Linked DNA regions of Homo sapiens. The protein of the gene in region 3 interacts with the protein of the main gene of each other region in a pairwise test. Each region holds a gene or a part of one and is shown on either strand. Other genes may lie near its edges.

The links.
Region 1: the proteins of LPAR3 (region 3) and NDUFAF2 interact in binary tests that used the Homo sapiens proteins (3 or more experiments, as listed by UniProt).
Region 2: the proteins of LPAR3 (region 3) and SGMS2 interact in binary tests that used the Homo sapiens proteins (3 or more experiments, as listed by UniProt).
Region 4: the proteins of LPAR3 (region 3) and CYB561 interact in binary tests that used the Homo sapiens proteins (3 or more experiments, as listed by UniProt).

What each region holds. Positions count from the first base shown.
Region 1 is NC_000005.10:61,067,195-61,074,219, reverse strand, and holds part of NDUFAF2 (NADH dehydrogenase [ubiquinone] 1 alpha subcomplex assembly factor 2), read right to left. Parts: intron 1,096-7,025; coding exon 1,006-1,095; intron 1-1,005. UniProt on the Homo sapiens protein: Acts as a molecular chaperone for mitochondrial complex I assembly. Complex I functions in the transfer of electrons from NADH to the respiratory chain. The immediate electron acceptor for the enzyme is believed to be ubiquinone.
Region 2 is NC_000004.12:107,820,326-107,827,937, forward strand, and holds the start of SGMS2 (phosphatidylcholine:ceramide cholinephosphotransferase 2), read left to right. Parts: upstream 1-4,606; 5' UTR 4,607-4,928; intron 4,929-5,346; exon of another isoform or gene 5,347-5,484; intron 5,485-7,612. UniProt on the Homo sapiens protein: Sphingomyelin synthase that primarily contributes to sphingomyelin synthesis and homeostasis at the plasma membrane.
Region 3 is NC_000001.11:84,862,190-84,869,214, reverse strand, and holds part of LPAR3 (lysophosphatidic acid receptor 3), read left to right. Parts: intron 1-3,076; 5' UTR 3,077-3,094; coding exon 3,095-3,830; intron 3,831-7,025. UniProt on the Homo sapiens protein: Receptor for lysophosphatidic acid (LPA), a mediator of diverse cellular activities. May play a role in the development of ovarian cancer. Seems to be coupled to the G(i)/G(o) and G(q) families of heteromeric G proteins.
Region 4 is NC_000017.11:63,436,307-63,443,331, reverse strand, and holds part of CYB561 (transmembrane ascorbate-dependent reductase CYB561), read left to right. Parts: intron 1-2,504; exon of another isoform or gene 2,505-2,605; intron 2,606-3,064; exon of another isoform or gene 3,065-3,132; coding exon of another isoform or gene 3,133-3,140; intron 3,141-5,771; coding exon of another isoform or gene 5,772-5,784; coding exon 5,785-5,986; intron 5,987-7,025. UniProt on the Homo sapiens protein: Transmembrane reductase that uses ascorbate as an electron donor in the cytoplasm and transfers electrons across membranes to reduce monodehydro-L-ascorbate radical in the lumen of secretory vesicles.

The DNA.
Region 1 (7,025 bases), on a different chromosome or scaffold from region 3:
TCGACCTCCCGAAGTGCTGGGATTACAGGCGTGAGTCACCACTCCCGGCCTCAGGTATTCAATACATATTGATTAACTACCTACTAGGTGCCTTACAATGTGCCAGGCACTATGCTAGGAACTGGTAAGCAAAAAACAGAAATACATAACATGGTTATGAGGTGCCATTTTGAACTCAGTCTTGCAGATGAACTTCATTCAGAGAGAAACTGAACTGGGAACCAGAAAGCTGTTGGAAAACTAGGAAATATTCTCTCTATGTACTTCTCATTGTGAACTAGTTTCCGTTTTCTTCTCAGTAAATCAGCTTTTTCTGCAATATTAGCTTTTCTAAAATCAATTAGCTTTTTATGCAATAAAACTTTGATGGTAGACTGAAGGTGACCACTTACAAGCTACTAAGTTCATATGTTACTGTTAGAGCCACACTGAGAGACCAACTGCTGCTGTTTGTCTCCCTTTGATCTTTTATTTTAACTTCAAAGTCTTAGGAAAGGGATCGAGCATCCATCCTTGTCTTAACAGGCAGTCAGTTATCATAGAGTTATTGTGAGTTGAAAAAATACTCCAAATGGTATCTACAGCAAGTATTATGCATAATTTATAAAAGAAAAAACTAAAAGTTTAAGTTACTTTGCAAGTTCATGTGTGTAATGAGTGCCAGAAACAGGATTCAAATCCTAGGATTGTGCAAGTGCTGGGTCACTACATGAAAGTGAGTGCCTGCTTAAATTTTGCATCTTAGGATTTTGGCTTGCCTCACCTTAGTCTCAGCTCTGATAATGCTTAATAGTTCTTTTTGCTATACATGCATCTGCTTACTAAAATTCAGCACCTTCACAACTTTCAAAGAAATGCAATGTTAAAAAAACAAAGTTTCAAACATTCAGACACTAAAACTTTTTTGCAAAGAGAAACAGTATATAACTATATATGCTCTTATTGAATTTGTATACTGTTATATAACTTACCTCCCATGAGATTCTACTAAAAGCAGAAACTTACCTTCCCATTCTGTTGGAATATCCCCTGCTTCATAGTCTACTTCTTTTTTATTTGCTGCTTCTACAATTCTTTTCTCTCGAATAGTTTGTCCTATAAGACAAAAGTCATTAATACATTTTTAAATGAACCTATGATACAGTAGTTCTACAATTAATCTTTGAATATTGCATAACCCCTTATATAGTAAAAGAATTAAATTAACAGGAAAACGAGAATAGATTTCCATTTTGAATTAGGTATATTACAAAAGGCAAATTCTAAACTACTGTAAAAATTTATAATTATTTACCACAGCCTACAAAAATTAAAGGTAGGCCAGCCGCAGTGGCTCACGCCTGTAATCCCAGCACTTTGGGAGGCCGAGGTGGGTGGATCGCCTGAGCTCAGGAGTTCAAGATCAACCTGGGCAACATGGTGAAACCCCATCTCTACTAAAATACAAAAAATTAGCCAGGCATGGTGGCACACACCTGTAGTCCCAGCTACTCTACTCAGGAGGCTAAAGCACGAGAATCACTTGAGCCCGGGAGGCAGAGGCTGCAGTGAACCGAGATCGAGCCACTGCACTCCAGCTTGGGCTACAGAGTGAGACTCCATCTCAAAAAATAAATAAATAAATAGATAAATAAATAAATCTAGATTTAATGTACAGAAAAAGAGCAACCAATTAATCCTATAGAGCACTAATGGCCAATAAAAAATATTTTAATAATCAACAGCAAGTTCAACTTCTTCTGACTTACATGTATATATCTTAGAGGAAGCAATGGCTGCTGCAATCACCCAAGAAAATCGATATTCATTGCTGTTACTAAGTATGTAATGGACCACAAGACCCTGCAGCCACCCTCTCCCTAATACACTGGCAAACCCAAGGGAGCCAAGCCATGGGTTGAATTCTGTGGCCCATCTGAATCACTTCCTCTTAAGAGAATTTAACAAAACTGGTCATTGGTTTGGTTATGGCTATGGTAGACTGATGGTGACCACTTACAAGCTACTAAGTTCGTATGTTACTGTTAGAGCCACATTGAGAGACCAGCTGCTGCTGTTTTGTCTCCCTTTGATCTTTTATCATAATTTCAAAGTCTATGGTTCTTCAGATGAGAGATTAATATCTGGAGTGGAATAGTAGCAATGCAGAAACATGAAACAGAGAGAACAGTAAAGTAAAAGTTGGTGAGAAGTCAAGAATGGAATGAGAATGCCTAATGCTTATATTTCTCAATAAAAGTTGATTAGTGCATATTTTAAGTTTATACAGAAGGCATAAAACTAATTGTTATTTTCTTCTGTTTTCAGAAAGTCTTCATTATATCTTTCAAAGCAGCTTTATCAAAATGGTTGCTTCAAAACATGTTTCTTTCTCACTGAACCTTTGAGCCTGGGGAAACCAGGTAGGCTTTCTACTTCCTACTATTTAACAAGTGTGCCTGCCTACTCCAGGGAATGTGAGCTGAGACAGAGAAGTCATTAGTGAGGAATGATAAAGGGAGCAGCATGGCTTAACAGTGATCAGACCAGTCAGGGAGAGAAATTTGGACCTTACAAAATACTCCTTTCTCTTACCACTCCTAAGCCAATCTTACACTATGCTAAATATACTGACTTACATAATTAAAGAAATTAACCTTGATGCCTGCAAATCTCTCTCCTACACTACCTGATATTCTATTAGCTGTAAATTCATTTAAGTGTGGACAGGAAACTCCTGGGAGTGACTGTGCAGGAGAAAGGACGACATAAAAGGAAAGCCTAAGAAAGCTGAATGGCTGGTTTTATTTCTTCCATCTTAGTAATATTAAGTGAAAGGCTGGGAGTTCATAGACAACCCATTAATGGCTAATAAATCTTAAGTATGTGGTCAGGAAGTTCTGCATTTCATTATGAAGTCATTTAATCAGGCTGATTTAATCCTAACGCAGAGGTTCCCCAAGTTCTACAAAGAGGAGTTACCTTTTGCTTATCTTACCCAATAAATTTACAGTAGGACAAGGGACTGATACTAAAAGTGGTAGGAACAAGGATTAGGGTACAAGGAGCATATAACAATGACAACTGCATTTCTCTCACAGTAGAGGTTCAATATATGTACATGTATGTTTACTAAAATGCTATTTACATTCACATATATAAATACATCATAACAAGTTACTATAAATTTAGTATTTATAATTTAGCATATATTAAAGTAAGCTTATGTGACAATTTTCAAAATGTGTTAGTCAAATACCGATGTCTTCATGTAGTCCTTATCTAATTACCAAAATGTAAGAATGTTTTTTGGAGTAATAGTTATAGAAAGGAAAACTATTGTCTAAAATAAAAATGCAAATACATGGGATCCTCAAAGTACATGTATGGTCTATAAGTTTTTAAATGTACATCCATAAAGTTTAGCACATGGGGAGAGGATAGACAGGTCTATCGTTCTCAGTAGCACTACTAAATGCATATATACTACAGGCATATCTGCAACAAAAAAAATAACTTTCTATTCCTACTCTTAGGTCGATCAACTTCATGTAAGGTCTCCCAAGGATTTAAAAAATCAAAAGTTATGCCTATTTGTGTGTATGTGAGTGCGTGTGTGTGTGTGTGTGTGTGTGTGTGTGTGTATGCAAAGACAGGAAGAGTAATTAATGAGCTAGTTTAATTTCAGGACAATCACTGAATAAACCTTTATTTAGAAATAGTTGAAATAAAGATTTTTTAAAAAAGTATACATCTTTAGTAATATAAAATAAAGCTATTAGCTTATTAAATAAATTCTTTGTAATCAGATATGTTTATCTCCTCAATAAATCACTGTAAAACTACTCCCTTTTTTTGGAATAAATACTACTTGTTCAATTTTTATGAATTGGGAATGGAATTTATGCCTCCCACTGAGTAAGGAATTATGCACAAACTGTACACTTACTTATACTAATATGCTTTCATGCAATATTTGTAAAGACAACTCTATTTATCACAGCAAAAAAATTTCCATCGTAGTGAATACAGCAAATTTAAGTACCTGCTCAAGCATCAAAATTTTAGGTTCTAATTTACATTTAAAAATTAACTTGGTGACAAAAACATTTAATCCAATATATGTGTAGGTTCAATAAGTCCTAATACAACAAAAATAATTGACATTGGTGGACTCAATGAGTATTATTAAATAAAACAGTACACAGTTGTTTTATTTAATACTAAACAATATTATATTTAATTGAAACACAGGGTTTGAATTCAGGAAGGTAGTAATGGTCAATAATCTATGTATTTAAAGACTGTAGATATAACAGTATATTTTTCCAAACTTTAAAAAAAGAAAAAGCTAGCTGCTGTTGAGCTAATTGCCTTAGGAGGATGGTAGATTTCCTATTTCTTTGTTTAGAAATATATGGAGCCCATTTAATTTTAAAAAAAGAAAGAAAGGAAGGAAGAAAACATAATAAAAGGTGAGATCCCAAGGCATATCGTAGATGACAAGGGTTTAGGTAAAAGACAGGTTTCACATGTACTACTGAGCTTCTGGGACAGTGTATGAGCACCCTGGACACAGATATGGGAAGGAGCCTCTAGAGCAGAAACCTAAACTTCAGCCATTCAAGTACCATCTTTGCAATTTTTGCCATACTTTAGAGTACTATAACCTAATATTTTTCTTTACAGTGATTTGCATTTTTCCTCAATACTCATTTTTACCTTACTCTAAAAAATATTCATGTAATCACTGACTTAATGTGCTAGTTGTGTTTTTTGCTCACCCATAAAAATAGATTTAAAAAATTTAAAGGGTTGTCTTTGTGTCATCTAAAGTCATCTTATAGACCACAGTTGGGAAACCACACTGCAGACCACACTGGGTTGTAGAGACAGGCCCAGCCACACATATGGTGTTACAGGGCATAGAAACCAATACAACCAGCAGGAAACTCCTATGGACAGGTAATGGGTGTTGAATATCAAAGTCTTGCTTGGATTACATTTACCCTTGATTTCAAAAAATCCTGTAGTTCACAACAATGTTTTGTTAGGTTTGAAGGAAGAAGGGAGAGGTCCTAGATTTCCAGAGTCAGGAAAAAAAAAAAAAAAAAGCACTAACATTTATGGCATGTTTACCATGTGCCAGATATTGAACTAAGTTTTAGCTCTGCATGAGTAATTTCATTTAAGCTATACAATGCTATGAGGTACTATTATTACTTCATTTAAATAAACAATTTGTACATTTCATTTATAAAGAGATTGAGGCTTAAGAGAACTTAAGACATTTACTTGCTAGCAAACAGATATCAGGATTTGAACATGGGTCTTTTGACTCCAGATCCTAGACACTTAACCACTAAGATATGTTGCCAGACTTTCAGATGACTACAAATGTTACATCTACAAACTGACATTTCGGTTGGTAAAATACAAGGGCTAAGCTAAAAGTAAAAGAGTAAAAATCACTATTTCTTTCCAAAAAAGAAAAACCACTGCCTTTCATTAAGGTGTTTCAGAATGTGGAAGACACATCTTAAATCAATTAACTTAATCCTAATAATAGATTCATTAAAACTTCACTGAAGAAAATCTGGAAAATACCAAAAAGTAGAAAAAAATAAAAATGACCTGTAAGCGCGTGACTCAAAATATCATATTAACATGTTATTGTTCCCTTTCAGACTATTGTAACTAATAGATTATAAATACACAAACACATATACATGTGCGCATGTATTTATGAGATTAAAATTGTACCTATATCCTTTTTCCTACCACATGGAAAATATAAAGGTTTTCATGTCATTGTTGCATAACTTAAAAAGGAAAATCAATATTCAGTTTCTGAACTTACTCTGACATTCTGAGGAAAAAGAAATTTCTTGTAAAAGTGTGTTAATAACATTTCTTTTGTTCAATTGTGTTTAAAATGTGAAGATAAAAGTAAAAAAGATTGCCTTGTTAAGCATAGGCAGTAAAGCAAGTTAAAAAATACTAAAAATGAAAATGTATGCCAATTAAAGATATGTATCAGATATGCTATACAAAGGAAGTTTTACAAATTAAGGCAGAACTTCAAGATCCGGGAGGAAGAAAGAGGTAAAGTATAGTGATCCATACATTCTTTATGTTAACATGTAATGGATTTATTAGTGATATTTTAAAATGAATTAATAAACACTTAAAAATCTCACTTTTATGTATTTAAAATAAATTTCATTGTATATATTTAAGGGATATAACATGATGTTGTGGGATATGAATAGACAGTAAAAAGGTTACTAGAGTGAAGCAAATTAAAATATGAAAACATGCTTATCATCACTGGCCATCAGAGAAATGCAAATCAAAACCACAGTGAGATACCATCTCACACCAGTTAGAATGGCAATCATTAAAAAGTCAGGAAACAACAGGTGCTGGAGAGGATGTGGAGAAATAGGAACACTTTTACACTGTTGGTGGGACTGTAAACTAGTTCAACCACTGTGGAAGTCAGTGTGGCAATTCCTCAGGGATCTAGAACTAGAAATACCATTTGACCCAGCCATCCCATTACTGGGTATATACCCAAAGGACTACAAATAATGCTGCTATAAAGACACATGCACACGTATGTTTATTGTGGCACTACTCACAATAGCAAAGACTTGGAACCAACCCAAATATCCATCAATGATAGACTGGATTAAGAAAATGTGGCACATATACACCACGGAATACTATGCAGCCATAAAAAATGATGAGTTCATGTCCTTTGTAGGGACATGGATGAAGCTGGAAACCATCATTCTCAGCAAACTATCGCAAGGACAAAAAACCAAACACCACATGTTCTCACTCATAGGTGGGAATTGAACAATGAAAACATATGGACACAGGAAGGGGAACACCACACACTGGGGACTGTTGTGGGGTAGGGGGAGGGGGGAGGGATAGCATTAGGAGATATACCTAATGCTAAATGACGAGTTAATGGGTGCAGCACACCATCATGGCACATGTATACATATGTAACAAACCTGCACGTTGTGCACATG
Region 2 (7,612 bases), on a different chromosome or scaffold from region 3:
TCTCTGGACCTGTATTTGTAGCCTCATTTGCGATGTTTTCCTACTTTACCTAAACTATAATGGGTTTTCCCTTGGACATCTTCTCACTCTCTAATATTTCCAGACAATCTCGGTTGATTTTCCGTGGAATCCTTTACTATTACATGCTGGCTATTCTCAAATTTGTATCTCCAGTCCATGCCTCTTTTTCTGAGTTCCAGACTAGTATCATCAGCTGCTCACTTTTCATTTATACATCTCACACCTCAAACTCATCAAGTTTGAAACTCATCATTTGCCCCCCAAAAGCTGCTGCTGTCTCAGCACTCCCTGTCTTGGTAAAGGGCACCACCATCCACCAAAGAGCTCAAACCAAAAAAAATATAGAAGTCATCTTTGGCTTCATCCTCATATCCCAACTGATCTGCAAATCCTGCAATAAACATCCTCATGCAAAATTAAAAAAAGAAAAACCTTTCAATTCCTGAGACATATGTTCGTTTAGAAGGTAACATGGTGATTCTTTTTCTTTTTCTTTTTTATTTTCTTTTGAGACAGAGTCTCGCTCTGTTGCCTAGGCTGGAGTGCAGTGAAAGGATCTTAGCTCATTGCAAACTCCCCCTCCCAGGGTCCAGCGATTTTCATGCCTCAGCCTCCTGAGTAGCTGGGATTACAGGCATGTGCTACCATGCCTGGCTAATTTTTTGTATTTTTAGTATAGACGGGGTTTCACTATGTTGGCCAGGTTGGTCTTGAACTCCTGGCCTGACGTGATCTGCCTGCCTTGGCCTCCCAAAGTGCTAGGATTATAGCCATGAGCCACTGTGCCCGGACCATGGAGATTCTTAGATAAACAGCCATGGGCACAAAGTAGGAATTCAATACAAATTTGTGGGTTGAGCAAATGACTTTAGATATGTTCAGATTCGAGTTACTGTAAGAGGAAATAAGTACTATAGATCTACATGTTTTCCTAAATCAGTATGTTTTATCAAATCAAAGAAATACCTGTAAAACTTGATTTATGCTGCCTTGGAGAAAACAATGGACAAGAACACACTTATCTATCATCCATTTCTCTCCCTTGAAACACTCAGTGCCATTATTTTTGAAAGGTGATGAATTGCAAATTTTGTCACTTTTCATACATGGTAAGAACAAAAGGTGCAGTTAAAAAACAAAAAAAAAATCATCTTTCTGTGAAAAGGATGTTACTATTTCTTAAAACATAGAAATTAAGATGAGTAATTTGCTTTCTCATATGTTGATAATGAATAGATTGAAAAAACTTCGTATCATCCATTATCAATTATATTATTTAATATATGTACTTGGGGATATTTAAATGGTATAATAAAATGACCTAATTACTTATTTCACAATATTTAAACTGAGGCACAATAGTAACCACTAATTCAAAACTACCCATTCAACAGCCTTCCACACAGAGGCTTATGAGGGAACTACAGGGTTTATATCAGCCAACAGTGCAGGCAGAACTGCAAGCTTTGTTTGGAGCTTTTTGACTTTATCCATGTACACAGGCCAAAAAGCCCACAATATCAATTGAGATCTGTAGAAAATTGTATTTAGACTTATCCCATAATGTCCAAATATTTGGATCATGAAGTAGGGAGTAGGTGGGATATTCACGCAAACTTACTTATAGATGGCTATACATTTGAATCTAGTCATTCAGTGTTACCAATGGATAGGACACCCATGCTTCTGAATTAGCTCTGTGATTGTCTATAAAAACTGCTGATTTGAATTTTGACTGCATCCTAGCAAACCAATCCATTTGCTATTGCCTTCTGGGCAAAATGCCTGGGCTTTGTAAATTTGAAAATGAGCTCCTTATTGAAGGGGAAAAATAAACCCCAGGACAATAACTTTCGATTGGTGGTCTCCTCTGGGTTCTAACCTTTAAAAGTAGCTCTAAAAGAGTCCATTTTCCACAACAATGATGTTGAGCCCTTGGTTAATTTTAGGAGCATTTTCATTTGGGGGAAACTTCTGTATTGTGACAACATCTTTTTTTGGTTTTATATTTTAAAAATTTGGGGGGACCGGGCACAGTGGCTCATGTCTGTAAATCCCAGCACTTTGCGAGGCCGAGAAGGGTGGATCGCAAGGTCAAGAGTTCGAGAACAGCCTGACTAACATGTTGAGACCCTGTCTCTGCTAAAAATACAAAAATTAGCCAGGGTTGGTGGCACACACCTGTAATCCCAGCTACTCGGGAGGCTGAGGCAGGAGAATTGCTTGAACCCAGGAGGTGGAGGTTGCAGTGAGCTGAGATTAAGCCACTGCACTCCAGCCCAGGCGACAGAGCAAGACTCCATCTCAAAAAAATTTTTTTAAATTTAATTTTTGTAGGTACATAGTAGGTATATTTATGGGGTACACACAATATTTTGATATAGGCACATAATGCATAATAATCACATCAGAGTAAATGGGATATCTACCATCTCAAACATTTATCCTTTCTTTATGTTACAAACCAATTATATTCTTAGTTATTTTAAAATGCACAATTACTGTTGCCTGTAGTTGCCCTGTTTTGCTATCAAATACTATACCTTATTCATTCTATCTAACTATATATATATTTTTTACCCATTACCCATCCCCCCTACCCTTCCCAGCCTCTGGTAACCATCATTCTACTGTCTCCATGAGTTCAATTGTTTTAAATGTTAGCTCCCATGAATAAGTGAGAACATGTGAAATTTGTCTTTCTGTGCCTGGCTTATTTCACTTAACATAATGACCTCTAGTTCCATCTATGTTGTTGCAAATGCCAGGATCTCATTCTTTGTTATGGCTGAATAGTACTCCATGGGTATATGTAACGATTTATCCATTCATCTGTTGATGGACACTTAGGTTGCTTCCAAACCTTGGCTATTGTGAGTAGTGCTGCAATAAACATAGGAGTGCAGGTATCTCTTTGATACACTGATTTCCTTTTTTGGGCATATATACCTAGCAGTGAGATTGCTAGGTCATACGGTATCTCTATTTTTAGTTTTATGAGGAACTTCCATACTGTTCTCCATAGTGGTTATACTTTTTACATTCCCACAAACACAAGGGTTCCTTTTTTTTTCCACAACCTCGCCAGTATTTATTGCCTGAGCACCTTTTCATATACCTGTTTGCTATTTGTATGTCTTCTTTTGAGAAATGTCTATTCAAATCTTTTGCCCATTTATTACTCGGACTATTAGATTTTTTTTTCCTATAGAGTTGTTGGAGCTCCTCATATATTCTGGTTATTAATCCCTTGTCAGATGGATAGTTCCCATTCTGTGGGTTGTCTCTTCAGTTTGTTTCCTTTGCTGTGCAGAAGCTTTTTAGCTTAATATGATCCCATTTGTCCATTTTCTTTGGTTGCCTGTACTGTGACGACATCTTGAAGTTGCGAGTTTGGGGATTGCCTGCCTTGTATATTCTTTTCTGTTACCATCATCTTTAATAGCCACAAATGACTGTTGACCCACATGATATCTGCACTAGAAACCCAAAGATTCCCGTCATTATTTTTGTTGATTATATGGAAGCACCCATAAACCAGCGCAAATCCTAAACATAATTATCTTGTCCAGAAGGAGACATTAATGTAAAACTTATGTCAAGAAAGATTTAGCCACATTCCCTCGGATTGGTCATTCCTAGTTAGAGTCCTTGAGGCTGCCATCGTTTACTTTGAAAACTGCCCAGCAGGTGTATGAATAGCAACTCCAGGACAATGTAGAACCATTACCATTTTAAAGACAGCAATCCCCCTTTTAAAAAACTACTGAGGCCTTCGAAGAAACCACACGGCTGCCTTGGGCCCCAAAAGCTGCGGAAAAGCGCAGTATTCAGTTAAGCAAATAACTACTTACACTGTTTATTTTGGTTACGATTCCTTAAGTGAGAAGTAAATCAATTAACAGGACAAATGACACGATGGTTAGGCACGAAAGGGACAGTGCTGCCACCTCATTAGCTTGGAGCAACCTTCCAGCTCATACCATGCGGACTGATGACTAACCTTGCCAGGCAACGCTGTGAGGTTTGGAAACCCACCTCTTTGACCTAGGCCCGGTCAACACCGATAAACCCTCTGAATCAACGCTGGCGCTCCCAAGCCCACTCACACGCCGTCAGGAAGCAGTTTCCGAAACAGGCCGGGTGCGGGGGTGGGGGATCCCGTTCCAGCCCCACCCCTGAAAGTTGCTGGGAGTGGCACCCAAAGAACTTTCCCAGATTGATCTCTGTTGCCGCTCAGGGAGGTCAGCTCCAGGCCCTCAGCCTTTCGGCCGGGAGCCAAACTGCCCTGCCTGCCAAGCCCCTCCTTCTCTGCACCTTAAACAGCCGCGAGGGGAGAGTCGGCTGGGATTTTCTTCTTAAGAAGTCGCGCAGGTTTTTCGAGCTCCACTCTGCGCCAGGAGAGCCACGGCAGCAGGAACGGGCACTGCTGCCACCGGGCCGACGGGTGAGTCACTGTTTGGAAATGGAGTGGGCGGGCGAGGGTGTGAGAGAATGAATGATGTCAAGAGCGCGCTGGGCGCAGGGCGCAGGGAGCGGGCCGCGCGCGGCGGGCGGGGAGAGCGGGCGCGGGGCCGCGGTCAACACTGAGCGCCGCGCCGTGGGCCGAGTGGGGCGGGGAGACCCAGCCCTCGGCGCGCACGGAGCCTGGCCGGTGCTGCAGCGCCGCCGAGTGCGGCCTCGGGGGCGGCGGCCGCGGGAGGGACCCGGAGAGCTGCTTCCCCTAGTCAGGCCGCGGCGTGGGAGGGCGAGACCCCGAGCAAACTTTCTAGCGGCTTCGGCCCGAGGGTGGTGACGCCCGGGGCTGGTCGCGGCGGCTGCGGCAGCGGGCTCCATCCCCTGGCAAATCCCCTTCCCGGGAGCAAGTGCCTTCAGCTGGGAGTGTCTGGAGCCCTGGCCACCAGCGGGTAAGGAGCGCGCGGAGGGGCCAGGAGGAGGATGGGCTGGGGAGCGGAGAGTCCTCCGAAGCGCGGGAGGGGAAAGGTGGATTGCGAAGCGGGGACGTGGCTCTAATCCGGCCCCCACCCTCCCCGCCCAGGGCATGCTTCCTCGATTTTGTGGTCTGGAGGAGAGATGTGTGCCTTAGTCTCCTTCCTCTGAGCAGTCATCTCATTCATTTGCAACCCATTTCGGGTACCCCGGTCCTGGCGTTGGAAGGGCACAGGTTAAACCCCAGATTGTCCAGAACCACTCCGGAGGTCAGGGCTGAAGTTCAGTTGGTGGAGGAGGGACTGTGTGTGTGTGTTTGTGTGTGTGGTTTTTCTTTTCTTTCTCTTTTTTTTTTTTTTTTTTTTTGAGAGGCACTTACTGATGATGTGTGAACAGTAACAGCCCAGCTCTGGGCAGCCCACACCGAAACCCTTCAACGTGTGGCATTCCAGAGCTGCTCCCTTTACGGAAGGGAAGACTTGGTTTCTCAGCGAAAATAAGGGGCGGGGAACCCCTGTCAACATCCATCCAGAGGTATGGATAATCATTAATTATCCACGGCTTGAAACCAACTCAAAATGTTATGTCCTGTAGTCTTTTTTATTTATTAATGTTGCCGGTCCTCTATTTCAAGTCTTGCCTGCTCTGAAATGACCTTAAAATCATTTTGACATGTGTGTTATATTTTGAAGAGATTCAACTGTTTAGTGTCACTGGATTCGGCGTGGGTTTTCAATCTGTACCTAACTTTTCAAATCCTTGGTTTCATTACCAGTCTCCTCTATTAACGGTGGGTGCTCAGGCACATTAAACATTCTGAACCAGTAAAATGGGATTATAGCTACTTCAGATAATAAGGTGGATTAAATAAGGATTAATAATGAGGATAATAATGAGGATTAAAGCGCAAAAGACTTCTCATAATGTCTGGTACAAAGCAGACCCCAACAAATTATAGCTGTTTATATATAAATAATAGTGTGTTGCAGCTGGCTTAGGTAATAACCAATTAATTTCCACAGAATGTCCTCCTTATAAGCCTGGTGGGCCGAGGGTTAGCATGTGAAATCCTTTGGCAAGTTCCTTAGATTGGGAAGTGATGTTTTCAGCAAGTTAAACATTTTTAGTACGGATACCTGAGAAGGTTATGGTTTCCATCCTGTGTCATGGGAACTGCCATTTACTGTTTAAACAATGTCAGAGCAATGGCTGAAAGTGACAACCTGGAATTTACAGGAAGAAAGGACGTGAGGAAGCTAACTTTACCTTTACCTTTTTTTTTTCCTAAAGAAGCAGTGCAAGCAGTGCAAAATTTCCTCTTTATGGCCCTTTCCTTGGTCTTCTAATGTTCTTACTTCACAATAGTCTGGTTGAAGTGTTTTTTTTTTTAACAAGTTAATGTTTAATTTGGTTCCTTTGGTTTCATTTTTAAGTAAAGCTAGTTGACTTGTGAACCTAGAGGGAAACACTTGGACACCTTGAGGTGGCTGCACCTTGTTCTGAGTTTCTCCCCTCGCAGAATCTCATAAAAGCCCTAGGAAATGTTTGGAAGAAACTTTAGCACTTGTGCACGTTATTGAAGACATTTGCTCTTACCATAACTATAACAACTTACAGGGTGAAAGATCTGGGAGCTGTCCTACGACAGTACCGTGTAGTGAGATCATGGACATGGGAATCCAGGAGACCTGAGGCTCTCTGAGCTGTGTTCCTTTGAGCAAGTTTACTTAAACTCTTTGGGATTTTTGTGGGACTTTAAACAAAATATAGGGGAAAAATAGAAATAATCTTAGAACTATTAAAATAGACAATGGAGTATCAGTGAGAACTTTTTTTAAAAGTGATGCTTTGAGGTGAGATGTTTCTTTTTTAAAGGAATAATTACTGAGAGTTTTGGACAGTTTTAGACTAAACAATGACTTACCCACCTTTAGCGTGTTGTCTCAATGGAGAAATTGAAGGCTTTGTCTTGAACTACTAGTATCAGATATTTATTTGCTTAACGTTTAGTATGCAACAACTACATAACAGCCACTGTGCTAGGGGCCAGCAATGCAAACGAAGGAGATAGTTGCTACCCCAAAGCTTATAGTCCAGTAGAGACCTCAGGCTGTGATTATCAAGAGGGGAAAAAAGGAGTCAAAAAAGGAGAGTGCTGGGGACTTGGGAAGAGACAAGAAGTGATTAGGCCGTCATAGGCTGCCTCCCACTGATAATAAGAGATCTGGTGGCATTCTGAATGGTCTTGAATAGGGGCTCGTAAATTCTTTATGAGGCCGAATAATAAAAGTATGCCTTGCTTTACACAGTAAAATATTACGGACAAGTGATAGCTCTTCAGTTTAAATAATTTTAAATATTCAAAGCAAGCTTGTTTAAATGAAATCTGAAGGGTCAGCTCAGCTCAACTGAGATATATTTGCTGTGTGGCTGGGTGCAGTGGCTCACACCTGTAATTCCAGCACTTTGGGAGGCCGAGGCAGGCAGATCACTTGACGTCAGAAGTTCAAGAGCAGCCTGGCCAATATGGTAAAACTCCATCTCTACTAAAAATAGAAAAATTAGCCGGGCATGTTGGTGCTCGCCTGTAGTCCCAGATACTCGGGAGGCTGACGCAGGAGAATCGCTTGAACCTGGGAGGTGGAGGTTGCAGTGAGCTGAG
Region 3 (7,025 bases):
GTAAAAATCATTGAGGTGTTAGTGCTTGATATAATTAAAAATTCGACCACATGTAAGAAATAAAACTAAAATGTTAAGATCCTTCAAAATAAAATTAGGAAAATTTGAGTAGTATTTTTGTAGTGTCTTAATTCCAATGTCTTTGTGACATATTCATCTTTATATTTCTAATAAATTAGTCAAAGATAATATAACTTTTAAATTAGAAATGTTTCTCTTAGATGTATAGAGCATGAAACAAAGTAAAATATATACATTATTTTTAATTAGAAAAGACACATAATAATTGTATTATTAAATTTTCCCATGTGGTGTCTTAGTCTATTCCTGTTGCAATAATAAAAATACTTTAGGTAATTAATAAATAACAGAAATTTATTGCTCACTATTCTGGAAGCTAGGAGGTCCAAGATCAAAGCATCAGTAGATTTGGTGTCTGGTGAGGGCCTGGTCTCTGCTTCCAGAAGGGGGCAAATGCTGTGTCCTTGAATGGCAGTGTGGCAAAAAGGGTCTCACGAGTTCTCTCAGGCCTCTTCAATAAGGGCACTAATCCCATTCACTTCCCAAAGTCCCCACCTATTAATATCACTGCAGTTAGGGTTAGGTGTCAACATGAATTTTGGAGGCACACAAACATTCAGACCATAGCAAGTGATTCTCGGATTGTTTGTCTTGAATTTCTGTATACTTTCAACATGGTTGAAAGCTGTATTTCTCTTTAAATATTTAAATTGAGTATCACTAGATTAGCACCTTGTATTTAACTCTCATATGCTGCTGGTAGAATTAAAAATATGATCTCTCAGGCTGGGTGTGATGGCTCATGCTTGTAATCTCAGCACTTTGGGAGGCCAAGGTGGGCGGATCACCTGAGATCAGGAGTTCGAGACCATCCTGGCCAACATGGTGAAACCCCGTCTCTACTAAAAACACAAAAATTAGCCGGGCGTGCTGGCATGCGCCTGTGGTCCCAGCTACTCAGGAGGCTGAGACAGGAGAATCACTTGAACCCAGGAGGCAGAGGTTGCAGTGAGCCAAGATTGCACCACTGCACTCCAGCCTGGGCGACAGAGCAAGACTCCATCTTGGAAAAAAAAAAATGCTATCTCTCTTAAGTGGAGTTTCACAAGATGTATCAGAAACCCTTAAATAGATTTATATCCTTTACTTCAATTTGAAATCTATGGGTTATTCCTAAAGAAACAATTGGCTAGATATATAAAGATTAATGAACAAGAATGCAGCCTTGCTTATAAAAGTGAAATACAGGAAGCAACCCTAATGTCCAGTATTTAGGATTAGTTAAGTCAGGTGTGGCCTATTCATATAATAGAATATTGTGAAGCTATTAAAATTATACTACCTGTATTTTTAATTTGGGGAAATTATGATATAGTGTAAATATATGATATTATCATGAATTTATTTGATATTTACAGTTAAATATTGGTGACTGTCTGCCAAAGAGAGTAATTTTTATTTTGTCATTATGAAAATTGAGTCTTCCTTTCTTGTAATTGAAAGATACTGGAACCATTTGTCTCTTGAGACTACTCCCAGTTTTTTTTAAGCATATAAAATGATATTTACCTCCCATTTGCTATGGCCAAAAAGCAATATCTAATTCATGTAAAAGTATCATTATACCATTAAAATATAAATTAAAAAAAAGACTGAGATACATTTCTATTTTGTACTACTTAATAGTTATCTGGTCTTCTTGATTCTGGTTGTGGTATTAGATTTCAGAATTTTCAGGAACTTTAAAATCTGGGGGCTTTTACTGAGCTTTTACTGTCACAGCTCCCAGAGGGCTGCTCAGTCCCTCTGCCGACTGAATCTCTGGTTCTCCAGGGAATAAGCTGCAGCCTCATTCTCAGTGAGGGAGCAGATGGTCATTCTTCCAAGAAGCTAGAACCCTGACCCTAAGCCCAATCTTCTTCCGTAGGACCGTTCATGGCTGTGGCCAGACCACTGTGAGGCAGAACACTTGGTTTTCCCCACCACGTGTAGACAGATGGGCATCCGTGGGGCTTCTGCCCAGCCCTTCCTTGGCCAAGATCCCTCGCTTTTGGGATTCAAGAGATCTTTTACTGAGAGGATTAGTGTCTTCCCTGTCTGCCTGATATCCCAGTTTGGGGTCTTCTTTCAGACAAGTGTCTGAAGAACATGCCCTCACTTAATAGATATGTTCTCACATCCACATTGAGTTGGAGATCTGCCCCAATTCCAAATCTCAGTCTTGCCTGTGGAAGCCCGATCCTCCTCCACCTGCCGTGTTGAGGAATGCTGGAAAATCCAGTGAGCAGGTTCACATTGGTACAGTTTGGGTTAGGAGACTATAAGGAAGAAGTGAACAAAAGGTAAGGAAGGGAGATATTGGGACCAAAGTCTCCATCCCTGCATCATATACCTAATATGTGAATATCAGAGTTGTTTGTTGAAACCAAAAGATGGCAAAAGGAGGATCAGGAGTGGAATCAGAAGTCATAGAAAACTGGTCTCTTGGGGTATCTGTTTGGTTATGTGAATGGTAATTCAACTCCTATTATCTTGGGAAGAATGTACCTGAAATTACCAACCTGCCGTTGATTAATGAACATATCCATAAATAACTAATGAACTGGGAGCCAGGAGGAGGCATTAACATAATGTGTTGTCATTGTGTTACCAGTGCAGAGTGGATATTGCAGGGCTCAGCACATTTGCCCTGTTGATGCCTCCATGAGAATTCATTCATTCATTCAGCCAGCCAGCCAACCTACCAATAATTACCCACCATGAGGCAGACAGAGCAACTGAATCCTAGGGTTGTAATGGTGAACAAAATAGAGATACACCCTCCTAACCTGAGCGGCCTAGCCTGGGAAACAAACAATTAAAATGTGCGCTAAATGCTGTGGTAGGAGGTCAGGGGCTATGTCCTGGACCAAAGGACATTTGCACTGAGACCTGACACTTCAGGTCTTCAACTCCCTTGATGGGAGTTAGCCAGAACGGGCTTAGAAACAGCAATTGATGGCTTAGTGACTGATTTTACAAATGATATTTGTTTCTTCTTTAAATTTCTTTCTAGGATGTTCACTTCTCCACAATGAATGAGTGTCACTATGACAAGCACATGGACTTTTTTTATAATAGGAGCAACACTGATACTGTCGATGACTGGACAGGAACAAAGCTTGTGATTGTTTTGTGTGTTGGGACGTTTTTCTGCCTGTTTATTTTTTTTTCTAATTCTCTGGTCATCGCGGCAGTGATCAAAAACAGAAAATTTCATTTCCCCTTCTACTACCTGTTGGCTAATTTAGCTGCTGCCGATTTCTTCGCTGGAATTGCCTATGTATTCCTGATGTTTAACACAGGCCCAGTTTCAAAAACTTTGACTGTCAACCGCTGGTTTCTCCGTCAGGGGCTTCTGGACAGTAGCTTGACTGCTTCCCTCACCAACTTGCTGGTTATCGCCGTGGAGAGGCACATGTCAATCATGAGGATGCGGGTCCATAGCAACCTGACCAAAAAGAGGGTGACACTGCTCATTTTGCTTGTCTGGGCCATCGCCATTTTTATGGGGGCGGTCCCCACACTGGGCTGGAATTGCCTCTGCAACATCTCTGCCTGCTCTTCCCTGGCCCCCATTTACAGCAGGAGTTACCTTGTTTTCTGGACAGTGTCCAACCTCATGGCCTTCCTCATCATGGTTGTGGTGTACCTGCGGATCTACGTGTACGTCAAGAGGAAAACCAACGTCTTGTCTCCGCATACAAGTGGGTCCATCAGCCGCCGGAGGACACCCATGAAGCTAATGAAGACGGTGATGACTGTCTTAGGTAGGTAAGAGGACCCAAGCAAGCCATCATTCCCATTCATTCAGCAAATCTTTACGGAGCATCTGTGGTGTACCAGGCACTTACTAGGCAGTAAGAATGCAGCAGTGAACAAGAACGGACATAAATCGCCACCCACCTGGAGCTTACACTCTAATAAGGAAAGATAAAATAAGTATTCTAATGGGGGTAAACAAATTAAGTGAAATAAGATGAGTCTCCTGTGGAAAAATCAATCAGGGAAGGAAGGAAAAATAAAGCAGGGAAGGGAGCTGGAGAGTGCTAAGCTAAGCAGGTATCGTTTGCACTTTAAAAAAGTGTTGTGAGGGATGCCTGGAAGATGACTTTTGAGCAGAGGTGTGAAGGCAGTCAGGGAGTGAACCATACTGGTGTCTGGGGAAGGGTGTTCCAGGTGGGAGAAGCGGTAAGCACAGGAGCCCTGACCAGCCAGGAAGCCACTATGGCTGCATGGATCGAGCAGAGGGAGTAGGAGAAGATGAGGTCAGGGAGCTGGTGGGGTAGGGGATGGGCTACTCAGATAATGTAGGGTCATGTGGTTATAAGGACTTCAGCTTTTCATTTTTTTTTCTTTTTTCTTTTTTTGCCGGAGCCTCACTCACTCTGTCACCCAGGCTGGAGTGCAGTGGTGCCGTCTCAGCTCACTGCAACCTCCACCTCCCGAGTTCAAGCAATTCTCCTGCCTCAGCGTCCCAAGTTGCTGGGATTACAGGCAGCGCACCACCATGCCCAGCTAATTTTTGTATTTTTAGTAGAGATGGGGTTTCTCCATGTTGGCTGGGCCAGTCTCAAGTGAGATGAGAAGCTATGGGAAGGTTTTAAACAGGGGAGTGACATGATCTGACTTATATTTTAATGGTATCTCTCTGGCTACTGTTTTAAGACACTGCTGTAATGAGGCAATAGCAAAAACAGGAAAATTGTTTAACCTATTTATGCCTAGTGTTCCATTATTGGAATGCTAAGCTTGTGGGAGTTATTTATATCCTACTGCTCAAGGTCATTGACAAGTTCTGATTTTTCACAAAAGAAATTTGCAACCCCTGGCATAAATGGGTTAATAGAGTATTTCAGTACTCGGGAGAGATCACCATGGCCAGATGGTAGTTGAAGGTGATGGTCAGATTCTGTTTTTTTGTTTTTTGTTTTTTTTTTTTTGAGACAGGACCTGGCTCTGTCATCTAGGCTATAGTGCAGTGGTGCAATCTCAGCTCACTGCAACCTCCACCTCCTGGCCTCAAGTGATCCTTCTACCTCAGCCTCCCAAGTAGCTGGGATTACAGGCCTGTGCCACCAGGCCCGGCTAATTTTTGTAATTTTTTTAGAGACAGGGTTTCACCATGTTGCCCAGGCTACTCTCGAACTCCTGAGCTGAAGCCATCCGCCTGCCTCGGCCTCCCACAGTACTGGGATTACAGGTGTGAGCCACTGCACCTGGCCAGATTCCAGATATTTTTTAAAGGATTTACTGATGGGTAAGGTAGAGGGGAAGATGAGAGGTGGAGGAGAAGGTGGGGAATGTCATTAACCAAGATGAGGAAGACTGAAGAGGAGGAGGTTTTGGGGGAAGATTTGGTTTTGGACAAGCTAAATTTAGGAACCTATTAGACATCCAAGGGGTGTGGCAATTTTATTGAGTGGACAGTTGGATGTTTGACTCAGGAATTCAAGATTTAGGTCTGGGCTGGAGATGTACATTTGAGAGTCCTGGGGGGAAACTGGTATTTTAAATCACAGGACTGCGTGAGCTCACCATGAACGTGAATGTGGATATGAAGGAGAGGAGGACCAAGGATGGAGCCGTAGGGCAGGCCCTCCAGTGTAAGGAGGTCAGGAGGTAAGGGGCAGCCAGCAAAGGAGCCCTAGAAGGGATGGAAAACCCAGGAGACTCTGGGGAACTAGAAGAAAGAGAAGAAGGCAATCGAGGAGAGGAAGCATTAGCAGTGTTGGTACCCCTGAGAGGTGGTGTAAGACCAGGTGTTGCTGGCCTTACCAAAGTGGTGGACTTGTGCTGATCTTGAGATCATCACATTTGGTATAGCCAAGAGCCTGATTGGAGTAAAATTGAGAAAGAAAGGAAGAGCCTGGGCAACATGGTGAAACCCCATCTCTATGAAAAATACTAAAATTAGCTGGCCATGGTGGTGCATACCTGTAGTCCCAGCTACTTGGGTGGCTGAGGTGGGAGAACCGCTTGAACCCGGGAGGTTGAGGTTGAGTGAGCTGTGATCACACCACGGCACTCCAGCCTGAACAACAGAGTAAGAGCCTGTCTTAAGAAACAAAAACAAAACCAAAAAAAAAAAAAGGGAGGAGAGAAAGGTTGTGAGCCCTGTACCAAGAAGACATGTGGTTTCGTAGAATTTTCCCTTTGTTTTATTTTCTCTGAAGTAGGTGGCCTATTGCCCCACCTCCCCAGTTCTAATTCTGGGTTACAGGTAGAATTTGTAATGTGTGGGCAGACAAGAACTTTTGTGGTTTCACAGAACTTGTCTTGTAAGGCAGAGAGGCCGTTTCTCACTGTGTGTGTGGCTGCAGCAATGGGGACTGTTGCTGAGAGAGATTCAGGAGTACATTTCTGTCTACTCCTTATGAGAAGGAATTATAAAATGAATTATCAGGTAGCAGTTCATAGTGGAGGATACAGTATGTGTGGTGTGGTATAGAAACCCTCACAATGCCTCTAGGTCCTGAAACTGCTAGTAAGATTTGGGGGTCAGCAGACACAGAGTGTGATTGTTAAAATAATTTCAAACTGAGGATTTATTTAACAAATATTTATATAGTGCTTAATATGTGCCAAGCATTGTCCTAAGTGTTTTTACAAACATTAACTTATTTAATTCTCATGGAAACCCTGTGAGATAGGTGCTACTATTATACCCATTTACCAGATGGAGAAACTGAGAGTTTAAGCAGTGTGTCCAGTCACTCAGCTGTTAACCAAGACTCACTGCGCAGCTGGCCTCTAGAGTTCACATATTTACCACCATACTCTGTGGCTACTTGTGATTTATCTGGACTTTTTACGCTCATCTTTTTGTCCTGTCTTCTGCTTTGACACCGTTGACACATTGATAAGAAAATGGACAAGAACAAGAAAAAGAGGGTTCACATTAATCGGCATTTCCCCTCGAGCTGGAGAAGATATTGATGTTTTTGATAAAGAATGAACTTTGG
Region 4 (7,025 bases), on a different chromosome or scaffold from region 3:
AATGCCTTCTCTCTTACCCTTTGGTCAGGGCCTGGTGTCTCTGCATGCACCAGGGCTTAGTGCCATGCTGGTACAAGCGTGGGGAGGATGCAGGAGGACTGGCATGGGATGGGGAGCACTGCCTGGGAAGCCCCTTCTTCCTGGGGCTACTGGGGTGCTAAGAAAGTACCCTAATAGCTCACACCACACTTTGCTTTCTCCTTCATCACATGCTAGGACGCTCTAGGGCAATTGAGCTGTTTTCCCCTTCACCCATCAAGAAGAGATATCGGCCTTTCCGCAGTCACAGTCTTTCCTAACTCAATTCAAACTCTGCTGTTGATAAGGAGGGCTGTAGCCAGCCCAGGCTGCCCGCTTCCCAGCCTCCCCTGCTCCGCCTTCCGCCCCCGAGGCTGTGCACCATGTGCAGTGTCTGGTCCCCAATAATGAGATTAGTCTTGGTTGCCTTTTAATAAAACGCAGTGGGCACCGGGAGGGAGAGCGATGCTTGGCTCAGTGAAGATCTGCGGGTCATGCTGTCCCTAATGCGCTGATTGCATTAAGTGGATTCTGGCTGCAGGTAGGGTGAGTGGGTGGGGACGAGGGTGACTCTCACAGCTCTAAGATCCAGAAACTGCCAGAGATCTGTCACCCTCATCCTGAGCTGTCACAGAGGAAGGCAAGTGACTGTGTGAGGGGCTACGTGAGCTCCCTCTGGTTGCAAGGTTCTGGTCTGCAGGGCAGTGGAGCCCTTGGGGGTGGGGAGTGGCAGCTTCCAGGCCTTGAAGCTGCTGCCCACAGTTCTGCTCTGAGAACACAGAGGGCCCAAGAACAGCCGGTGTCCCAGGGCTGCCCAGTGAGGAGGGAAGAGCGAGAGAGTATTCTTGCTGTCAAGACTGGGAAATGAGGGCCACGATTCAAAGCCTTGCTTCCTAGGGAGAAATCTCACCCAATGTCCAGGTTTGCAAATGCAGCAGACACATTTGTGGGTGGGTCAGATTCTGTCCAGAGATACCAGAATGTCTATCCCTGTACACCCCCACCTCTGGCATGGGACAGCCCTTCCCTGCACACAAATGGGTTATCAATTATGTCCAATGAATGGCCTCACGAGAGTCCTGTTGCGGAAGGGATCTTCCGCTTATCTCCTGTAAAGCACAGAGCCACGCTCAGAACCTACGGACTGTGGTCGCCTGCAGGCCAGCCATGGGCTTTCCTTTCATCCTTACACTTAGATTTTGAAGCCTCGCCTTTGAATCAGAAGCAGGCTGCTGTCATTCCAGAGGCCGCTGTTCATCTCTGGCTTCCTCCCAGATGCCCAGGTGCCCCGGGTGCCTGGGCTGCCTAGGCCAGGGCACCCGCCTTAGGAGCAAATGGAAATGCATCTTCCTCGGCTTGTTTGCCCTCCTGTAACCCCTTCCCTCTTGCCTTCGGTCAGGGCCTGCTGTCTTGCACGCACCAGTGCTTAGTGCCATGGTGGAACCGAGGCGGGGAGGACGCAGGAGGACTGGCACAGGAGGGGGGGCACCGCCCGGGAGCTTCCCCTGCGTCAAAGCAGCTTCCTCAGTGAGCTCCAACACAGACCCTTGCTGGCCTCAGTCTCTGGAAAGACTGACAGCACCACCCTAGTTCCTGGGCCTTGGAAAGGCCAAAGCCACGAGCAGGCAGCCACTGTTCGGCAGGAGAGCTAGAGATGCTATTGCCCACAGACATCAAAGCAGGGGTGCCGTCTTCCGTGTGCATGCTGGGACGGGTCTTGGAGGCCCAGATTAGCTCCTGGCTTGAACTTGTACCACCCTTACCTGAAAATTGGGTCTGTACCAAAGCTCATCTGCACGCCCCTTTAGGGCAGGGACCAGGCCCCCTCTGTGTGGCCCTAGCACCTGGCCAAGTGCAGGTGGCTGCGGGTTGAGTTGAGCTGCTATTTGCTGATGGGAATTTGGGGGCCTGTCGCTTGTCCTCTTTGAGCCTCCATTTCCTGGCCTGTCAAATTGGGGCAATGCTCCTGTTATCCACACAGTGTCATTTAAGGGTGACATTAGAGATGGCATGAAGTGCCCAGCACAGAGCAGGTGCTCACAGGCTGTTGGGTCCCCACCCTACTGACACACCAAGCACACGTCTGCCCTGCCATGGTGGGGAGCAAACAATGTTATGGTTCCGACTCCCCGGGAGGCCAGGCCGGGCATTTCACTGTAGGATGTTGAAGCCGCAGGCAGTCGTCGCTGCGAGAAGAGAGCCTGGCTCTGATGTCCACTGTCTTCCAGGGAGCCTGGTGGGAAGGAAGGAGTGGGCAGCGGCCCCTCGCTCTGCGGGCCTCTCCTGCCCTTTGTACTCCACGAGGTGTGAGGAAGTTGCCGGGTCACCCAGCAGAGGGAGAGGTGATGTCCCCTCTGTTCTTCCTAATTTGTAGCTAATCAGATTCTGCCTGCAGCCAGGCTCTCTGGGGATGAATCTAATAAAGGAGGCGGCGACCTGGAGAGGAGGACAGACAACAAGTGACCAGGGGGGACAGCACTTCTTTCAGTACATTTTCCTGTTAGACTCGGGGTATTAGAGACCCAAAGATACCCAAGGAGGAGTGAGAGCGTCCCTGCCTTCGAGGAGCAGACAGGGCACCGCGAGGGTAAGGAGGCTCCGGGAGAGCCTGGGGACAGAGTGATCTGCGCACCGCGGTGCCTGAGGAGTGGAGGCAGGGGTGTGGGCCCACAGCAGGGAGCCAGGCTGGGCCATGTCCTTGGATTCTGTGAGCCCAGGCGTCTCCTCTAGAGGGCCTAGCAGGAACAGTGGGGGCTGCAGATGGAAACGGGCAGGATCATGCCATGCAGTTGGCATTTCACTGGCACTCGGGGGCACTTACGCAGGGGACAGCATGATGTTGGGAGCTGGCTTTGTCCCTGGCATGTCTGTCACGTTGAAGAGGGAGAAGCTGCAGGCCCTGACTTGGGTGGGGCAGTGAGGATGCTCAGGAGGGAAGTGAGGGGAGGGGTGCCAGCATGCGGCGGCCTGGGCAGCCTTCTGTGGAGGAGCTGAGGTGTCACCTGGGCCCGGAAGAAGGGCAGCCCTGCTAGCTAGTGGGGAGGGCATGAGAGAACTTGGCGACGATGGGAGAGAAGGTGACTTGGGACGAGCTGGGTTTGAAGCGTCTGTGGGATGTCCAGGTAGAGATGAGTAGTGAACCGTCAGAAATGGGGCTTGAATTTGGGGTGGCGGGGACAGAACTGATACCCGTGTAGGTGACAGATAAGGACAGAGGCAGGAGTTCCAAAAATAGGATTTATTGTTGGCTGGGGCTTCTGGAATCCCGTATTCCCGTCCACCCTGGGAATGTGGATTGGAGCTATGTTTCTGGGAGATGATTTGATGGAATGTGTCAGAAGTCTAAAACAGAACCTAGCCCTTGTTTCAGGATTCCCTGCAGAGAAGTTTGCAGATGACCACATCCTGTTGTTTATTTGGTGGAAAACTGAAATCGAAAGCTAGCTAAATGCTGAACAATGGGAACTAGTTGGCTAAAAAATGGCCGTGCAATGCAAGAGTGTGAGGTTACGAAAATGATGATGTGGGCGCGTATCCATTGACACAAACATCCATGTGTGCTACGCCCTCAGTTAAAAAGCAGGTTAGAAAATGGAATAAATGATCCTGCTTCTATAAAAGGATGCATATGTGTTTTAGGAAGAAGGTGTGTGAGGATATAGATCAAATTCTGATGGCCTGTCATTTTACCTTTTTTGCTGATCCATATTCTACTGCAGTGCGTGTGGATTATTAGCACACACACACACCCTTTTTTTTTTAATTAAAAAAAATTTTTTTTGAGACAGAGTCTCATTCTGTCACCCAGGCTGGAATGCAGTGGTGCGATCTTGGCCCACTGCAAACTCTGCCTCCTGAGCTCAAGGGATTCTAGTGCCTCAGCCTCCCAAGTAGCTGGGATTACAGGTGTGAGCCACCATGCCCGGCTAATTTTTATATTTTTAGTAGAGATAGGGTTTCACCATGTTGTGGCTGGTCTTGAACTCCTGGCCTCAGGTGATCCACTCGCCTTGGCCTCCCCAGGTGCTGGGATTATAGGTGTGAGCCATCGCACCCGGCCCACACACACACCCCCCCTTTAATGGTGGAGTTGCCAACAGTTGTCCGATGTGGCAGAGAGAACTGGGGAGCAGAGAAGGAGCCCATCACTGGGAGGGACTGAAAACCAGCTCCTGGGCACTGCAGGGCAGAGCGTGTGCCGGGTGTGAAGGGGGTCAGTGCCCCTGTGCTGGCCACTGTCCCCCTAGTTCTGATACAGTTGCTGCCAGGAGAGGCTGGACCGTGGCAAGGGGCCAGTGGGGAACCGGGGCGGGATGGGGGGCAGCAGCAGTGCTCTGGGGTCTGCTTGTGGTGGCCATGGTGGTGGCAGTTGCAGTGGCAACTGTGGGCCATGGCAGCACTTTTCCGTGGCGCACAGGCCGCTGCCGGGTGAGGGGAGAGCCCCGCTTGTTCTCCTCCTGCCGCCTCTCCTCCCATCCCCAGCTGCTGGGTGCTCTCCGGCCGGCATGAAGCTGTGCAGGCACTGGGCACTCCCTTGGGCTCTTAGCGGGGCCTTCTCATTGCTGCTTCGCTAGGAACCACCCGCTCTCCTTTCCTCCTGGAGGGCCACGTGGGGCCGAGCACCTGGGACAGCCGTGCTGAGCTCTACCCGGCCCCTTCGCAGGCCTCGTTTCTGGGGGCCTTCAGTTTTGGAAACCTCCCTGAGGGCCCCTCTAGAGTGCGGGTCCGCCCCGCCCCTGGTGTGGAGGGGAAGTGCCCTGTCCCTGTGTGCTGACAGGTCCCTGTGTGCAGCATGGTCGGGGCACTTCTACTCTGCAGGCGCGGCCGGGCGGGGAGCGGGGTGGGGGGCGGGCGGGGGCGTGGGGGGAGCGGGGCTGGCTCTCCTGGGTGTGGGGTGGGGAGGCCTCCTCATCGCCAGCATGGAGTTAAAAACCAGGATGGGGGAGGGAGACTTCCCATTTCTCCCGAGATGTACTTCATGACGCGTCTGGAGAAAAGGTGTGACCAGCCCCTTCCTTCCCGTCAAGGAGCGCGCTTGCCTGTGTAACTCACCTGTAAAGCCCACCCAGGGAAGGCCAGGGCCTCATGAAACAGAAAACAAAGCCGGGCACTGGGCCCTTGAGCTCACTAGAATTTGGGGTATCTTTCCTTGCACCCTCACCGCATATGGAACTCCTGGCGTCGTGTCCCAGGTCACGCCTGTCCCCGTGGGGAGGCTGGGCCCCTCCCCCCAGCCACTCCCGAGACTTGAGACCTCTGCCTCAGGACGATGGGTGGGAAGGGGCTTGCGGGTAGGAGAGCGAGCGCTGCTTCCAGCGGGAGCCTCGGGGGAGGGTGGCGGGGCCGCCGTGGGAGGAGCCGCGCCGCATCTCAGGCGCAGTCTCTAGGGGCTGTGCGCATCCGTGGGGGGGACATGCGCATCTCAGGGGGGCTGCTCGCATCTGGGGGTGCTGTGTGCATCTCGGGGGGGCTGTGCCCATCTAGCGGGGTGGCTGTGCGCATCTGGAGGGGGCTGTGCGCAACCCGGGGGGGGTGTTGCGCGCATCTAGCAGGGGCGGCTGTGCGCATTTCGGGGGGGGCTGTGCATATCTGGGGGGACCGTGCTTATCTCCGGGGGCGGCTGTGCGCATCTTGAGGGGTGTGTACATCTCGGGGGGCCTGTGCGCATCTTGGGGGGCTGTGTGCATCCGCGGGGGCTGTGCGCATCTCGGGGTGCTGTGCGCTGCTCCTCTGAGCTCTGCTCTTTCTTGCAGCGTTTGCCTCAGCATGGAGGGCGGGGCCGCGGCAGCCACCCCCACAGCACTGCCTTACTACGTGGCCTTCTCCCAGCTGCTGGGCCTGACCTTGGTGGCCATGACCGGCGCGTGGCTCGGGCTGTACCGAGGCGGCATTGCCTGGGAGAGCGACCTGCAGTTCAACGCGCACCCCCTCTGCATGGTCATAGGCCTGATCTTCCTGCAGGGAAATGGTGAGTCCCATGGGCCGCTCCTCTTTTCCCGGGCTTGTGGGGGTCCCTGAGAGGCAGTTTGCAGGGGTCTTGTCACCCCTGCGGTCTCTTCTGGTTGGACAAATCTAAGATTCTAGAAAAGACAGAGACAGAAGCTGGTTCAGAGCCTGGGGAGATGGAATCCAAACCCAGGCTCTGAGGTTGGTGAGTGGCAGCTCCTCTCCAGCCTGGTCCAGCATTTTCACCTCGTTTCCACACACAGCATCCAAGGCGGGCACTTCTTGCAGCAGAGGGAAAGGAATGAGGCTCCGAGCCAGGCCCTGCTGCAGGGGTGGTTTGAATTGAGGGAAAAAAAGTAATCATATGTGAGAGTTTGTATGCGTGCGTGCGTGCGCGCGCATGTGTGTTGTTGGTCTTGGACTTGGCAGAGCTAGAGCGCCTCCCCCTGGGGCAGGAGCAAGGCAGTGCTTGGCCTCCACCTGCCTCCAGGCCAGGGATCCAGGAAGCGGGATCTGCATCCGGTTGACCCGCTCTTCCTAGAGGTGGTCCTGGTGACAGCCATTCCTGAGCAGCAGAAAGCTAAGAGGCATTCCTCACGTGACCTGGCCTTGCCCACCTCTTCTGGACGCGGGAGATCAGGCTGGGATCACAAGGTTCTGCTTGGGAGCCAGGCGCCTGCTTGCTAGGAGTAGGACCATCTGCCCAGGCTTAGGTGGGGGCCTGTGTGAGGAGCCACGTGGCTAACAGGTGAACTCAGAGGCTGCTTGTTGCCTCAGTGTGACCAACAGTGGACCTCAAACACAGCCTGGAATTTGCAGGACACCTGACAAGAAGGTGGGTGGAGGGGGGCGTCTGCTGGGCCGGGCAGCTCCTTTAGGTGGGGACGAGGGCAGAGGCGCTGCCTTCACTGCCTGTCCTGGTGGTGGGGACTGTGGTGCAGCCTCCGGCCCTGCCCTCTTTGTGCACAGCTGGGGGAGGTTGGAGGGTGGGGGAGGGGTGTTAAGGTGCACACAGCCCTAGGTGCCCTCAGAGAAGGCCAGGAGCTGCCCAGGGTCCCCAG